2 separate regions of the Homo sapiens genome follow, and region 2 is linked to region 1. A link means that fine-mapping ties the variant in region 1 to the expression of a gene that starts in the linked region. Tissue or cell type: whole blood. Region 1 holds a variant in brackets; the other region holds the start of a gene. All regions are shown on one strand. Distances are between the middles of the regions.

Evidence for each region. PIP is the estimated chance that this variant, and not a neighbour inherited with it, causes the effect.
Region 2: it holds the start of XG, and the variant in region 1 is fine-mapped to the expression of XG in whole blood (TOPMed, PIP 0.97).

Annotation. Positions count from the first base shown.
Region 1 is chrX:2,799,474-2,807,473 of GRCh38, reverse strand. It overlaps XG (Xg glycoprotein (Xg blood group)), which reads right to left. Exons shown (of 11, transcript NM_001141919.2): 8 at 729-773. Among named protein-coding and RNA genes, the nearest start is that of GYG2, 25 kb to the left of the region's middle. RefSeq lists enhancers at 2,297-2,962, 1,871-3,070, 2,963-3,627, 3,628-4,293, 6,275-7,216 and 1 more. The variant T/C (reference allele first, on the strand shown) is at 4,813.
Region 2 is chrX:2,747,220-2,755,333 of GRCh38, reverse strand. It overlaps XG (Xg glycoprotein (Xg blood group)), which reads right to left and starts at 3,294. Exons shown (of 11, transcript NM_001141919.2): 1 at 2,999-3,294. The coding sequence starts at 3,059.

The sequences.
Region 1 (8,000 bases):
ACACACAAATATGCACACACAAACACATTCATGTGTGTGTGTGCATGCCTGTACACACGCATGTATACACACAATCCACATGCACAGATGCACATGATATATTCGTGCAGTATGCACATACCACACGAGCACACCCAGATGCACACTCCTGCATCTATCCACATGCACACATGTGCTTGCACACCCCTAAATGTATGCATGTGAATGGACACACATGGGAAACATGCAATGCACATGCAACCCAAGCACAAGCATGCACACATGCAAAATCCACAAGTACATGCCAACACATCTGTGCACATACACAAACATGCATGTGCTCAATCCACATGTGTGCACAGACACTTGCACACATGCACATGAAATCCACATGCACTTATGCACATGATTACAAAATCCACATGCACATGTACACATGCATGCACACACAATACACACAAGCATACCTGTGTGTGAACACATATGTATACACACACACGTGCACACACATGCACCCAGTAACACCTGTAAGTGGGCCATAGTTCCTTTGAAGAAATGAAGTCCTCAGGGCATGCACAACATCTCCCCCCAGCATGGATGACCAAGGAAAATGCAAATGAGAGACTCGAACGGCCAGTTGGTTGTGCACTGGATGAAAGCATCAGCTTCCCATCAGTGCAGACAGTGTGTTAGTTATTTGCAAATGGACAGTTTTGCCTCACATATTCTGTAAGACATAATTCCTTTACCATAAGTATTTCCATAACGAGAGTTGAGTCTATAGCCCCCTCTTCCTGCAGGATAGAAAAGAGACCATGAAATGCTAGATATTGCTCAGGAAGTCTGCATGATCTTACAGAAGCAAGCAGGTCAGCAAACCTGAAGCAAGATGCTCTTAAAAGCTGCAGAGATTCCAATGCTCTCCCAAGGCCAGGGAAGGTGCACAGGCGCCATCTGGCCCCTGTTTACTGTTTACACCGGTGGCTGAAGGTGCATTAGATGTACATCCCTGAGGGTCTGGAGGCCTGACATAGATGGGCAAAGGTGTTTTCTTCGGCATAAAAAAAAATGCCAGCAAATGTTGGTTAAAAAAAAAGAGAATAGGATGAAAACGCAGGCCACAAATAGTAATTTATTTAAAATTTTAAAAAAAAAGAGTTCCTCCAGGTTGGGTGTGGTGGCTCCCACCTGTAATCCTACCACTTTGGGAGGCTAAGGCGGTAAGACCACTTGAGCTCATTTGGAGCCCAGCCTGAGAAACATAGTGAGACCCCGTTTCTACTTAAAAAAAAAAAATAGCTGGGTGTGGTGATGTGCACCTGTAGTCTCAGCTACTACTTGGGAGACGACTGAGGCAAAAGATTGCTTGAGCCCAGGAGGTGGAGGCTGCAATGATCTATGATCACGTCCCTGCACTCCAGGCTGGGCTACAGAGTGAGATTTTGTCTCAGAAAAACAGCAAAAAAAGTTTTTCTATATTTTTCTAATGTGTTAAGAGCAATTTTTAAAAATACAGATTTGAGATTTTTAAAACTAATGCTTTGTGCTGATTTTGAAGTGGAATGACTTATGTGGATAGTGGGTTCTATGGGCTGAACTATATCCCCCTCCAAATTCACAGGTCGCAGTCCTAACCCCCAGGGCATCAGACTGTGACTGTATTTGAACACAACGTCCTTAGAGAGGTGATTAAAATAAAACGAGATCACTAGGGTGGGCCCTAATCCAATAGGACTACAGACCTTATAAGAAGAGGAGATGAGGACACAGACACACACAGAGGGACGACCCTGTGAGGACACAGGGAGAAGATGGTGTCTACAAGCCAAGGAGGGAGGCCTCAGGAGGAACCAGCCCTGCTCACACCTTGATCTTGGACCTCCAGCCTCTAGGACGGTGAGAGAATCAATGTCTGCTGTTTCTAAGCCACCCAGTCTATAGTATTCTGTGATAGCAGCCTGAAATGGACTAAGACACCTCATAAGGAGAGGAGATTGGAACACAGACACACACAGAGGGACGACCCTGTGAGGACACAGGGAGATGATGATGTCGACGAGCCAAGGAGAGAGGCTTCAGGAGGAACCAGCCCTGCTCACACCTTGATCTCAGACTTCCAGCCTCCAGGACTGTGGGAGAAGAAATCCCTTTTGCTTCAGCCCTCCTGACTCTTGTAATTTACAATGGCAGCCTTAGCAGACAAGGGAAACTTGTCCCCCAGTATTTAAAAACGACGAGCGCAACATTTTCTCCCCAGTCTCCGCAGGGAGGCCAGACTTTGGGCTTCCCTCCGCGGCCAGCCACGGTCAGCCCTCACCCCTCAGTGCTCTGCATGAAGCCAGAACAAGCCTAACACGCTCTGCCTCCTTTGGGGATTCGGGGAGAAGCCGCGTGACTCATCCCATGGCGGCGGCTTGCATCCCAGCCGGCACCTCCATGCTGATGCTAATCCGAGCGCTGACTCACAGCCTCGCTCTGCCGGGGCTGGAGAGCAGGGGTCCAGGCAGGAAGGGGAGCACAGGCATCCTCGAAAACAAGCGTCATGCTCCCAAAACTGGGCTGTGCCTCATGCACGCCTGATGTTCTTGGCCCAGCTGCTGCTTCCACCGGGCCCTGGCCCTGCCAAGGACCACAGGGCTACCTGCTATTTTCTGGCAGTTTTGCCCCAGGGATACAGCAGCCCCCTGACCAGTAAGCTTTGATCCATTCGGGAGCCAGATAATGGTCCCCCAAAAATGGCACAGCGCAGACCTCCCGAGACTAACTTCACAGGAAAACAGGAAACGATCAGGGCTCTCAGGGGAGCCGCTTGCTGAATCACTTCTTTCTACCTGATGAGTATGCCAGAGAACAAAAGAACGTGTCCCGAATAGCTCCTTACAGAGAGCAGTTTCAGAGAATCGTGCATGGGGTGAAAAGGCTCATTCGTAGGCTGTAGGGGTGTGGGGACGGCTCGCTTTATATAACACGCTCCAAGGTGGGCCGGATGTGGTGGTGCAGGCCTGTAATCCCAGCACTTATGGAGGCCAAGGTAGGAGGATCGCTTGAGCCCAGTTCAAGACCAGCCTGGGCAACGTGGCGAAACCACCTTTGCAAAAATTGTAACTGAGGAAATGATGACAGTGAAAGAGGCCAGACCTAACCGACTCTATCTTGCTTCTAACCCTTAAGCTGTCCTTGTTCATTCCTGGGCATAGGCCCAACTAACTTTGGGAAGGAATTCAGTTCATGGTTTCACTCTGAAACAAAACTGATCACAGCCTTTTCCTGAAAACACCTCCTTCTTGCCTGGGGACCAGTTGGACTTTGTAGGACTAACAAATTAGCTACAAGATTAAAAATTATAGTTTAGGGCTGGGCGCAGTGGCTCAAGCCTATAATCCCAGCACTTTGGGAGGCCGATGAGGGTGGATCGCCTCAGGTCAGGAGTTCGAGACCGGCCGGAACAATATGGTGAAACCCCGTCTCTGGTAAAAATATGAAAATTAGCCGGGCATGGTGACATGTGCCCGTAGTCCCAGTTACTGGGGAGGCTGAGGCAGGAGAATTGCTTGAACCAGGGAGGCAGAGGATGCAGTGAGCCGAGATCACACCACTGCACTCAAGCCTGGGCAACAGAGTGATACTCTGTCTCGAAAAAAACAAAAAAAGAAGAAAAGAAAAGAAAAATTATGGTTTAGGGGTCGTGCAGCCTCTGGCTCAAGAGTCTGAACCTCTGCAAATTGCTCCTGGGGGTAACATCACTATTGTAAAACGTAAGCGCGGTGTTTGAGACATTTTGCAGCCTCTGCACTGGATGGATCAGCTGACACCAGCCAGCCCGGTAATCTGGCTCAACCAGTTCCGCCATCCACCCAGGAACAGAAAACAGCAAGAAAACCTCACTTCACCCCCCTATGGTTCCCTCTGCAACCTGACCAATCAGCCCTCCCCACTTCCCAAGCCCCTACCCGCCAAATTATCTTTAAAAACTCTGGACCCTGAATGCCTGGGGAGACTGATTTGAGTAATAATAAAACTCTGGTCTCGGGCACAGCTGGCTCTGCATGAATTACTCTTTCTCCATTACAATTCCTCTGTCTTGATAAATCGGCCCTGTTTAGGCAGGGGGCAAGGTAAACCCATTGGGCAGTTACAACGGTGAGACCCCATCTCTACAAAAAATTTCTTAAAAATTTAGCTGGGTATGATGGTGTGTGCCTGTAGCCCCAGCTCCTCGGGAGGCTGAGGTGGGAGGATCGCTTGAGCCCAGGAGTTTGAGGCTGCAGTGAGCTATGATTGCACCACTGCACTCCAGCCTGGGCAACAGAGTGAGACTCTGTCTCTAAATAAATAAATAATAAAACAATAAAAAACTACTCCCAGTGGCTTTCTGTAAAAATATTAAATTTGGTCTTTGCCTGACATTTTCAGTTAAATTGAAACCGCCTTTGCAAAAATTATAACAGTGAGAAAATTACGACAGTGAAAGAGATCTGACCTAACCGACTGCATCGTGCCTGTAGCCCTCGAACAGCCCTAGTTCATTCCTGAACACAGACTCAGATAACCATAGGAGGAAGTTCCAGCTTAACATTCAAACAAAGATAACAGCCCTTTTCTGAAACAAACTCCCTTCTTCCCCGGGGATCAGACTGCCTTTGAAAGACTAACAAATTAGTCACAAGATTAGAAATTATATTAATAGGTTAGGAGCCATGCAGCCGGAGGCCACAAGATTCCAAACCTCTTCAGTTGCTCCTAGGGATGGCATCACTATTGTAAAACCTAAGGTTGAAGTTGAGACATTTTTTAAACCCTTCATTGAGATGCACCAGCCGGCGCCACCCAGAC[T/C]GGTAATGCGGCTCAGCGAGCTCTGCCGTCCCACACAAGAACAGAAGACAACAAAAAGAACCCATGTCCGTCCTCTGTCATTCCACCTCCAACCAACCACTCAGCACTCCCCACGCCCGGGTCTCCTACCAGCCAAATTACACGTTAAAAAGCCCAGTGTCCAAATTTTGGGGGAAGCTGATTTGAGTCATAAAACTCCAGTCTTGGCTAGGTGCAGTGGCTCATGCCCGTAATCCCAGCTCTTTGGGAGGCTGAGGTCGGAGAAACACTTGAGGCCAGGAGTTGAAGACCAGCCTGAGCAATATAGTGAGACCCCATCTCTACAAAAATTTTTTAAAAATTAGGCAGGTGTGGTGGCATACACCTGTGGTCCTAGCTACACAGGAGGCTGAGGCGGGAGGATCGCTTGAGCCCAAGAGGTTGAGGCTGCAGTGAGCTATGATTTCACCACTGCAGTCCAGCCTGGGTAACAAAATGAAACCCTGTTTAAAGAAAAAAAAGCAAAACCTCCAGTTGATATAGGAGTTAAGAAGGAATTAGTTAATTACTTAGGCACATAGCAAGGGTATGGGAGTCCTTGGTAAGGCTTTTCTTTTTAATGAAAAGCAGCCCCAAATCATTTTCTAACAAAGAGCAGCCTGTAAAGTTGAGCTGTGGCCGGGCGCGGTGGCTCACGCCTGTAATCCCAGCACTTTGGGAGGCCGAGGCGGGCGGATCACGAGGTCAGGAGATCGAGATCATCCTGGCTAACACGGTGAAACCCCGTCTCTACTAAAAATAGAAAAAATTGCCAGGCGTGGTGGCGGGCGCCTGTAGTCCCAGCTACTCGGGAGGCTGAGGCAGGAGAATGGCGTGAACCCGGGAGGCGGAGCTTGCAGTGAGCCGAGATGACGCCACTGCACTCCAGCCTGGGCGACAGAGCGAGACTCCGTCTCAAAAAAAAATAAAAAATAAAAAATAAAGTTGAGCTGCAGACATAGACAAGCCAGCTAGGAGCTTACATGGGTGAATGCCGGCAGGAACTAGGGCCTAGACACGTTCAAGATGGCAGCTTCATCTTCCCTCCTCTTTGTCAGCCCCATGTACAGTAAGTAGCAGACAAGATGGCACTGACCAACTGGAAAGCCCATTTACATAACAAAATTAGGGTGGGGCCACCAGCCTTCCCCACGCACTATGTAGAAGTCATACCTGATCGAACCAGTCTGTAAGCCCTATGTAAATCAGACACCACCTCCTCCAGCCTGCCTACAAAAGCTGCTGCGGTCCACAACCTCCCAACTTTTTCAGATGCTTCTCTTTCTCTCTCTCTCTTTCTCTCTCTCCCTCTCTCTCTTGCAAGGAGCTGCTCTCCTCTCTCCTTTCTTCTATTAAACTTTCAACTCCTTAACCCAACCACATGTGTCTGTGTCCTGAATTCTTTCTCAGCGTGCAACAATGAACCCCAGGTATGTACCCCAGACAGCATAGCTGCTTCACATGCTCCCGTTCAGTCAGCTCTGTGTGAATTAAACTCTTTCTCTATTGCGATTCCCGTCTTAATAAATCAGGTCTACCTAGGTAGTAGGTAAGGGGAACCCCTTAGCTAGTTCCAGAAAGATGGTGGAAGGAACTCATCTCATAGTACGTTGAGTTGAAGGTGGTCAATTCTTTTTTAGTGTCCTTTTTTTTTTTTTTTTTTTTTTTGAGACAGGGTCTCACTCCATGGCCCAGGCTGGAAGGTAGTGGTGCTATCACGGTTCACTGCAGCCTCAAACTTCCAGGGTCACTTACACCTCCCGAGTAGCTGGGACCACAGGCGCACACTTCCATGCCCAGCTAATTTTTGTATTTTCTTGTAGAGACAGGGTTTCACTATTTTGCCCAGGCTGGTCTTGAACTCCTGAACTCAAGGGATCCACCCACCTTGGCCTCCTAAAGTGCTGGGATTACAGGCGTGGGCCACCATGCCCGGCCAAAAGTAGACAGTTCTTGACCCCAGGTAATGAGCACTTTGTCATGAGCCCCCTCCCATCCTGAAGCTTGTCTGTGTCATAGGGAGTGAGTTCTGAGGATGGGCTACCTATAGGGCCACAGCTATTGCTCCTTTGAAGTGGACAGTCGAGCGTCATGCATTGCTTTCATTTTGTTAAATGGATCTGATGACAACACTCGCTTCCGAGGTAACGAAGATGACGGACATCAAAATATTTTACTCCAAAATATATTGCTTTGCCTTATTTTGAAATTGCCGCTCCAGGGCCAGCAGACTGAGGTGGGGAAATTGGCATCTGTAGAGGATCTTTGCTGTTGCAGCCAGGCCTTCCCTTTCTAAGCTTTTCCTGGATGTAGGAGAGAGAAACGGAGACTCTGACACCTTTACAGGTCTGAAAAGAAACATTTACCATGGTCGTCTCTGAGCGCTGCTACCTGGGAACCTTCATCTGCATAACAAGGACCCCCTTGCTAAGCAGGCCTCTTCCTGTCTCCCTCTCATCACCTGGCTTGCCACCCGTTAAACCTGCTTTACCAACGTCACCTATTTGGGGCCATGCTCTGAGCCCACATTCTTCCTGCAAAGAACAACAAATAGCAAACTCAAATAGTAAAGACATGGAATCAGCCTAGGTTCCCATCAATGGTAGACTGGATAAGGGAAATGTGGCCCATATACAATGTGGCCCATATACACAGCCATAAAAAAGAACAAGATCATGTCCTTTGCAGCAACATGGATCGAGCTGGTGGCCATTCTCCTGAGCAAACTAATGCAGGAACAGAAAACCAAATACCATGTGTTCTCATTTACAAGTGGGAGCTAAACACGGAGTACGCATTGTGAAAGGAAATTAAATTTTGTGATCCTGAACTCATTTAGTCAAAGGGAAAAGTCAAGCTGGGAACTGGGTCACACAAACCTGCCTCCCCCTTTTGGTTCCTAAATAAAATGGCTACAAGATGAAAAGCTACACGTCTCCCCCATATTTTGCCCACAAGGAAAATCCTAGTGAGCTGTGAAGATTTCACCATGACAATATGCAAATCGACAGCTTTGCAGTCACCCCCGCCCAGCAGACACAAATCATATGTGATTGCTCCCCTGCCCCATTTTGTCCAGATTATCTTATGCAACATGCAGATTCCCTGCATTTTCCCTCTGCCCCATTTGTCTATGCCATCTTATGTAAAAAAACACAGATTCACTGAGC
Region 2 (8,114 bases), 52 kb after region 1:
GGGAGGCATGAATAATCCAAGCCTTGCTTAGCATATCACTAAGAAATAACCATAAAAATGGGCAAGCAGTAGCTCTAAGAGCTGCTCTGCGGAATAGCCATTCTTTTATTCCTTTACTTTCCTAATAAACTTGTTTTCAGTTTACAGACTAGCCCTGAATTCTTTATGGAGCGAGATCCAAGAACCCCGTCTTGGCGTCTGGATCCGGACCCCTTTCCTGTAACACTTGGAGGAGGGATGATTCTGATTTTCAGAAGACAAGGCTTGGGATAGAGCGGGATGCTCACTGGAGTCTTCCCAGACAGAGCTACAGGACAGCTCAGATTCCGCTGCCGGCTGCCCCCGTCCAAATCCTCAGTGCCTCAGTTTACCCATATCTGTGACGGTTAATACTGAATGTCAACTTGATTGGATTGAAGGATACAAAGTATTGATCCTGGGTGTGTCTGTGAGGGTGTTGCCAAAGGAGATTAACATTTGAGTCAGTGGACTGGAAGGGGCGGACCCACCCTCAATTTGGGTGGGCACCATCTAATCAGCTGCCGCTGTGGCTAGAATATAAGCAGGCAGAAAAATGTGAAAAGAGACACTGGCCTAGTCTTCTGGCCTACATCTTTCTCCCATGGTGGATGCTGGAACATCAGACTCCAAGTTCTTCAGTTTTGGAACCTGGACTGGCTCTCCTTGCTCCTCAGCCTGCAGACGGCCTGTTGTGGGACCTTGTGATCATATGAGTTAATACTTAATAAACTCCTCTCTCTATATATATTTCTATTGCATTAGTTCTGTCCCTCTAGAGAACCCTGACTAATACACCATCTGTAAAATGACATCAGGCACGACACTCCCGTCATAGGGCTGAGGGACAATCAACTAAGTTAATCCATGCCTAGTGCATAGGAAGTGCTGCCGTCAGTCAAAGAATTTAGCGCAGGACAGGGTATGGTGGCTGATGCCTGTAATCTCAAGATTTGGGGAGGCCAAGGCAGGAGGATCGTTTGAGCTGAGATGTTCAAGTCCAGCCTGGACAACATAGTGAGATCCCGTCTCTACAAAAAGTTTTAAAAACTAGTCAGGCACAGCGGCAAATGCCTGTAGTCCCAGCTACTCTGGAGGCTGAGGTGGGAGGTTTGTTCGAACCCCTGGGGTGAAGACTGCAGTGAGCTATGATGGAACCACCGCACTCCAGTCTAGGTGACACAGTGGGCCCCTCCCTCAAAAAAATTAAAACACATTAAAAAAAAGAAAATATTTTATGTTGTAAGTGCATTTAATACAACTACCCTACCAAACGCCATAGCTTAGCCTTACCTGCCTTCAGAGTGCTCAGAACACTTTTCATCAGCCAACGGATGGACAAATCATCTAGCACACAGTCAACTTTATAATGAGGTGTTGCATACCTCACATAATTTATTGAACATTGTACTGAAAGTGAAAAACAGAATGGCTGTATGGGGCCGGGCATGGTGGCTCACATTTATAATCCCAGCACTTTGGGAGGCCGGTGGATCACCAGAGGTCAAGATTCAAGACCAGCCTGGCCAACATGGTGAAACCCAGTCTCTACTAAAAATAGAAAAATTAGCTGGGTGTGGTGGTGGGCACCTATAATCCCAGCTACTTGAGATGCTGAGGCAGGAGAATTGCTTGAACGTAGGAGGTGGAGGTTGCAGTGAGCTCAGATTGTGTCACTGCACTCCAGCCTGGGCAACAGAATGAAACGACACGACATCTCAAAAAAAAAAAAGAAAAGTTGTATGGGTACTCAAAGTACAGTTTTCGTTTGTACTGAATGCATACCAATTTTACACCGTTGTAAAGTTGAAAAATCTTAAATTGAACCATCATGTCAAACCATGGTAAGTTGGGAACTGTCTGTATCCGCACTTTGTAGAAGTTGATTTGCCCAAGGGGATATGGTTAACCTTTGGCTCTTACTGTGAATGATACAAACTCCTGGAAGTACTTTTCTGGGGAGGTGGGTTTACTGTTGAACATCTCCCTGTAAACAGAAGCTAATGAATGCATGGCCACATTGTCCACTTACTAGGTGAGATCTGAAGACAGCACAGAATAATAAAAAATTCTCACTGCAGATCCTAGACTATGTCCACCAGGATCTATCCATCCCGACACCGCCTCCGCCCATAAACAACCAACTCCAATCTTAATGACGTCCATGTCTTTAAATAGGATAAACAGGAAATGCTGCCACAGGGACATCTGAATGATGTGTTTTAACTCCTAACAGAAATACTTCTCTCTCTTAAGATGCGCCCAGGTGTTCCCTTCTCTGAAATCGCCACATGAAAATGACCAAAGAAACTTACTCAACCGTTGTTCAAATCCTGTACTTTATGAGTTCATTGGAGTTTCTTAAAGAGGTCCTCGTACGGAACTGAAAAATCTAATCTTGGATCTGGGACAGCCAGCCTGCAAGTTTATATCGAAGTTTTTGATGTGAACAATTCAGGTGGTTTTAATTTGCAAGAATGAATGACAGTGTTTAGGAAAAGATTTAAAAATCTGAATAAATGCAACCCTTCCGGCAAACGAATCTCTGGTAATCTGCCCCACGGGATGAAGTAGTTTCAACTCTACTTTTACTGTATGGAAATGGTCAGAACTAATTTTTAAAATCAGAAAGAAATGACTGACATTCCACACACACCCAGTCATGCTTGAATCATGGAGTTAAATAGGTCATTTTTTAAACGCTTGGGACACATGGATCAAAACAGGAAAATATGGCGAATATCTAGATGGTATCAGCTAACATCCTGCCCTTCTGGATCTAATTCCCAGATTCCAAATGGGAGCAGCCCGTCTTCTCCCTCCCCTCTCAGCCACCCATCGCTCTTAGTCTCCTTTCTAATCCCATTGGGCAAATTATCCCCATTCACTTCATAGCAACTCCTTTGGAAAGAGTTTCTTAAAGCAAGAATAGAAAAATCCATGCCCAGGCAGATCTCCCTCAAAGCAAAATGCCTCTTACCTCGGGCGTGCATTAGAAAACACAGGAACGCAAGACAGGGAAGTCCCCACCAGCTCTCCATGGTTTGCTTCAGGATGCAAGAACCTCAGTGGACTCCCCAGCCAAGCGGATTGTGAGACCCGGCCTCTCCACCCTCCTGTTGTTGACTTCTGGTCTCCCAGCTTGGAAGGAAGGGAGGCGATGTCTTCAAGTGGAAAATATGAGCGGAACTGCCAGAAACAAATGGGCTCCAAGCTCAGATCCCAAACTCCACAGCTGAAAACCTGTGGGACCAGTGTAGGCACACTCAGTCGTGTGTCGGAGCCAGCCTCCCCGGGCTGCCCCAACCAATCTGCAGCAGCACAGACGATGGGGAAACTGGGGTGGTTCCCAAGCACCAATGGGCATCTCAGGCTTCTGGAAGCCGGCACACTTGCTTGGCAACTCTGCTCGCTGCGGGTGTGGGAGCTGTAGCAAGTTCAAAGTCACCAACCCAGAAACCAGAGAAGACACTGGCCGCCTGTAATCTTCCTCCTGCAGGACATGATTGTACAGTGATACCCAGTGTGGGGTTAATGTACACATCAGTGCAAAGACCTCAGTTGAAGTCTTGGCTTTTATACCTAACAAACTCAGTGACTTCCAAGAGGCATTTTTTATCCTCAGCCTTCAGTTGTCTTTGTAGGTGGCAGAACTAATATTTCAGCAGAGACGGTTGTTCAGGAAAAGGAGATATGTGGCTTTTTGTGTCTTTCATTTAAATCTGAGACATTTTATGTAACTACCAAAATTTACATCTTCTGTTTGAAATCTCCTTGGAGAAGAAACATGACTGGATAGCTGAGTTCGATGATGACTCCTGCTTTCACAATGGTTTTAATTATATTCTTCCCTGCAGATCTGTGAGTGTGTCTAATTTATCCATATACAACTCGTGGGTTAACCCTTACACTCTACCTACCATGAAGCAGTAGGCAAGCACTTAAAAAGTTACCATTTGCAAACAGCTTTGAAGTCCTCTGGTAAATAGATTAACTGCAGGAGAAAGGGGAAAATCAGTCTTAGTTATGAGGGCAGCTTCTAAATTCCCAGAGAAGCAGGATTCATGGCAAACAGACCCAAAAGGAGAAATAAACCTTGGACTTTTCTCTCTGCAAATTTGAGCATCTGGAGTGTTAAGTCTGTTCATGTTGTTGACCTGGTGTTTGGGAGTTGTCTTCTATGAAATATCTTCCTTTTTTTTTTTTGAGACAGAGTCTCACTCTGTTGCCCAGGCTGGAGTGCAGTGGTGTGATCTCAACTCACTACAACCTCCGCCTCTCAGGTTCAAGTGATTCTCCTGCCTCAGCCACCCGAGTAGCTAGGATTACAGGCACCCGACACCACACCCGGCTAATTTCTGTATTTTTAGTAGATACAGGGTTTCACTGCATTGGCCAGGCTGGTCTTGAACTCTTGACCTCAAGTGATCCACCTGCCTCGGCTTCCCAAAGTGCTGGGATTACAGGTGTGAGCCATCGCGCCTGGACTGCAACATCTTTATAAAGGTAAGTTACTTGGATGGATTAAGTTCCTGTGCACACAGGTGTGTGTGTGTGTGCACGTGTCTGTCTGTGTGTGTGTGCGTGTGTGCGTGTGCATGTGTGCGTGTGCATGTGTGTTCATGTGTGTGTGTGTGTGCATATGGGGGAAATGCTCTAAGGCAGTTAGCTTGTGCAGTCCTAAGCTCTGAGTGGCAGAGTCCAGGAAGCAGTTGATGCATTTAGAAAGATATTTCCTTCAAAGTCCCCTGACCCTAAAGAGGACTGACACCGTGACATCTGCTACAAAGTGGATGGACGTCAAAAACTGGATGCTGAGTTAGAGAAAACAGACACAGAAGAACGCATTGTGTAGGATTCCATTTCTCTGAAATGTCCAGAACAGGCAAATCTGCAGAGACAGAAAGCACATTGCCGGTTGCCAGGGGCTGGAAAGACGTGGGAATGGATATATTATGAGTTGCATTTTTTCTCCCGCAAACTTCATATATTGAAGCCCAACCCTTCAGTACTTCAGAATGTGACTTTCTTTGGAGATAAGATCTTTGCAGATGTATTACTTTGGTGCAAAAGTAATTGCAGTTTTCACCATTAATTTTTTTTTTTTTTTTGAGACACAGGCTTGCTCTGTCACCCAGGCTGGAATGCAGTGGCGTGATGTCAGCTCACTGCAACTTCTGCCTCCTGAGCTCAAGTGATTCTTCTGCCTCAGCCTCCTGAGTAGCTGGAATTACAGGCATGCACCACCACACCTGGTTAATTTTTGCATTTTTAGTAGAGACGGGGTTTCACCATGTTGGCCAGGCTGGTCTCGAACTCCTGACCTTGTGATCCGCCCACCTCGGCCTCTCGAAGTGCTGAGATTACAGGCGTGAGGTAGCGTGCCCAGCTCCTCGCCATTACTTTTGAAGGTGAAAACTGCAATTACTTTTGCACCAACCTAATCATTAGTTAAGATGAGGTCATACTGCAATATGATTGGTATTTTAAAAGAAGAGAGAAATCTGGACACTGACATGCACACAGGGAGAAGGCCTTGGGAACATGAAGTGGGAGATTGGGGTGATGCACCTACAAGCCAAGGGATATTGGCAGCAAACCACTGGACGCAATGGGAGGGGCATGGAATCCATTCTACCTCACAGCATCAGAAGAAATCAGCCCTGCTGGCTGGGCCCGGTGGCTCACGTCTGTAATCCCAGCACTTTGGGTGGCTGAGGTGAGCGGATCACTGGAGATTAGTAGTTCGAGACCAGCCTGGCCAACATGGTGAAATCCCGTTTCTACTAAAAATACAAAAATTAACTAGGCACGATGGTGCGCGCCTGTAATCCCAGCTACTTGGGAAGCTGAGGCAGGAGAATTGCTTGAACCCGGGAGGCAGAGGTTGCAGTGAGCCAAGATTGTGCCACCGCACTACAGACTGGGCAACAGAAACAGAGTGAGACTCAGAAAGAGAGAGAGAGCGAGAGAGAGAGAAGAAAGAGAAAGAAGAAAGAAAGGAAGAAAGAAAGAAAGAAGAAGGAGGAGGAGGAAAGGAAGGAAGGAAGGAAGGAAGGAGGGAAGGAAGGAAGGAAGGGAGGGAGGGAGGGAGGGAAAGGGGAAAGGTAAGGAAAGGAAGAAAGAGAAAGGAAGGAAGGAGGGAAGGCAGGAAGGGAGGGAGGGAGGGAGGGAGGGAGGGAGGGAGGGAGGGAGGGAAGGAGGGACGGAGGGAGGAATCCACCCTGTTTGCTCCTTGATTTCAGACCTCTATGCTCCAGAACTGTGACAGCTTAACTGTCTGTTTTTTAAGCCCCCTACCTAGTTTGAAGCATGTTTTTATGACAGCCCCAGGAAGCCAATATAAAAAACAGCTGCTAATGGGATTTCTTTTGGGGGCAGTGAAAATATCTTGGAACTAGGTAGAAGTGGTGGCCACAAAACACTGTGAAAGCAGCAAGCAACCTGAATTGTTCACTTTAAAATGGTGAATTCTCCTGTCATCCCAGCACTTTGGGAGGCTGAGGCGGGTGGATCACCTAAGGTCAGGAGTTCAAGACCAGCCTGGCCAACATGATGCAACCCATCTCTACTAAAAATACAAAAATTAGCCAGATGTGGTGGTGACTGCCTGTAATCCCAACTACTTGGCAGGCTGAGGCACGAGAATTGCCTGAACCCGGTAAGCAGAGGTTGCAGTGAGATGAGATCACGCCAGCCTGGGTGACAGAGACTCCGGGTCAAAAAAAAAAAAAAGGTTAATTCTATGATTTGTGAATTTCACCTTAATAAAAAAAATGTTTCCCAAAAGGTAGTGAGGAGTTAGGTTAAATGGTTAAGTTCAGGAAATCCTCTCAGATGTAGTGAAGGTGCAAAATAATTGCTACGATTTCCAGCATGCCTAACGTGCCAGTGTTGTAAGTATTTTACATGCTTCTTGAGGCAAGAGTAGACAAGCTTTTCTGCAGAAGGTCAGATAGTAAAGGCATTTATCTTTGCAAACCATATGGATTCTGCTGCAATATGTAACCAATGTCTGTGCGCCAAGTGGACTTTATGAACATAAAAACTTGAGTGTCACATAATTTTCATGCATCACAAAATATTATTGTTCTTTGGAGTTTTGAAAATTATTCAGACATGTAAAAACCATTCTTGGCTGGGCACCGTGGCTCATGTCTGTAATCCCAGGACTTTGAGAGCCAGAGGCAGGCAGATCACTTGAGGCCAGGAGTTCGAGACCAACCTGGCCAACATGGTGAAACCCTGTCTCTACTGAAAATACAAAAAGTAGCCGGGCGTAGTGGTGCATGCCTGTAGTCCCAGCTGCTCAGGTGGCTGAGGCAGGAGAATCGCTTGAACCCAGGGGCGGAGGTTGCAGTGAGCCGAGATCATGCCACTGGACTCCAGCCTGGGCGACGGAGTAAGACGCCATCTCAAAACAACGATAACGACAATAATACAAAAAAATTCTTACCTCGAAAGCTGTACAAAAACACACCGTGGGCAGATTTGGCTCCCGGGTTCTAGTTTGCCGACATCAAAGCTGTGTGTTGCAGGAGTCCTGGGAAACCCAGTTTTATCACCTCTGCTTCACTAAAGTATGGTCAGGGCAGGCCGTGTGCCCAGCGGTAATACACGCAGGCTCCAGATCAGAGCACGTTAGGGGAAAAGCACTCTACTTCACCGCTCGAAGCCTCAGCTGATCAAATGCTGGGAGCTCACAGACATGGCAGAATTTACAAAGCCGACTTTAATTTTCACATCCTCGATAACCTTAAAAAGCGTGAATGCATCTCCTTTTCAATGTTCATGGGATGCTCCTGAAAATTCACAACTGCACTACAAAGAAAGCTTTAGCAAACTGTTTTTTTAAAGTAGAAACAAGACAGAAGACATTCTGTTGCTGTAAAATTGGAAATAAGAATATTCTAGGCCACGCATGATGGCTCACACCTGCGATCCCAGCACTTTAGGAGGCCGAGGCGGATGGATCACCTGAGGTCAGGAGTTTGAGACCAGCCTGGCCAACATGGTGAAACCACATTTCTACTACAAATACAAAAATTAGCCGGGTGTGGTGGCATGTGCCTGTAATCCCAGCTACTTGGGAGGCT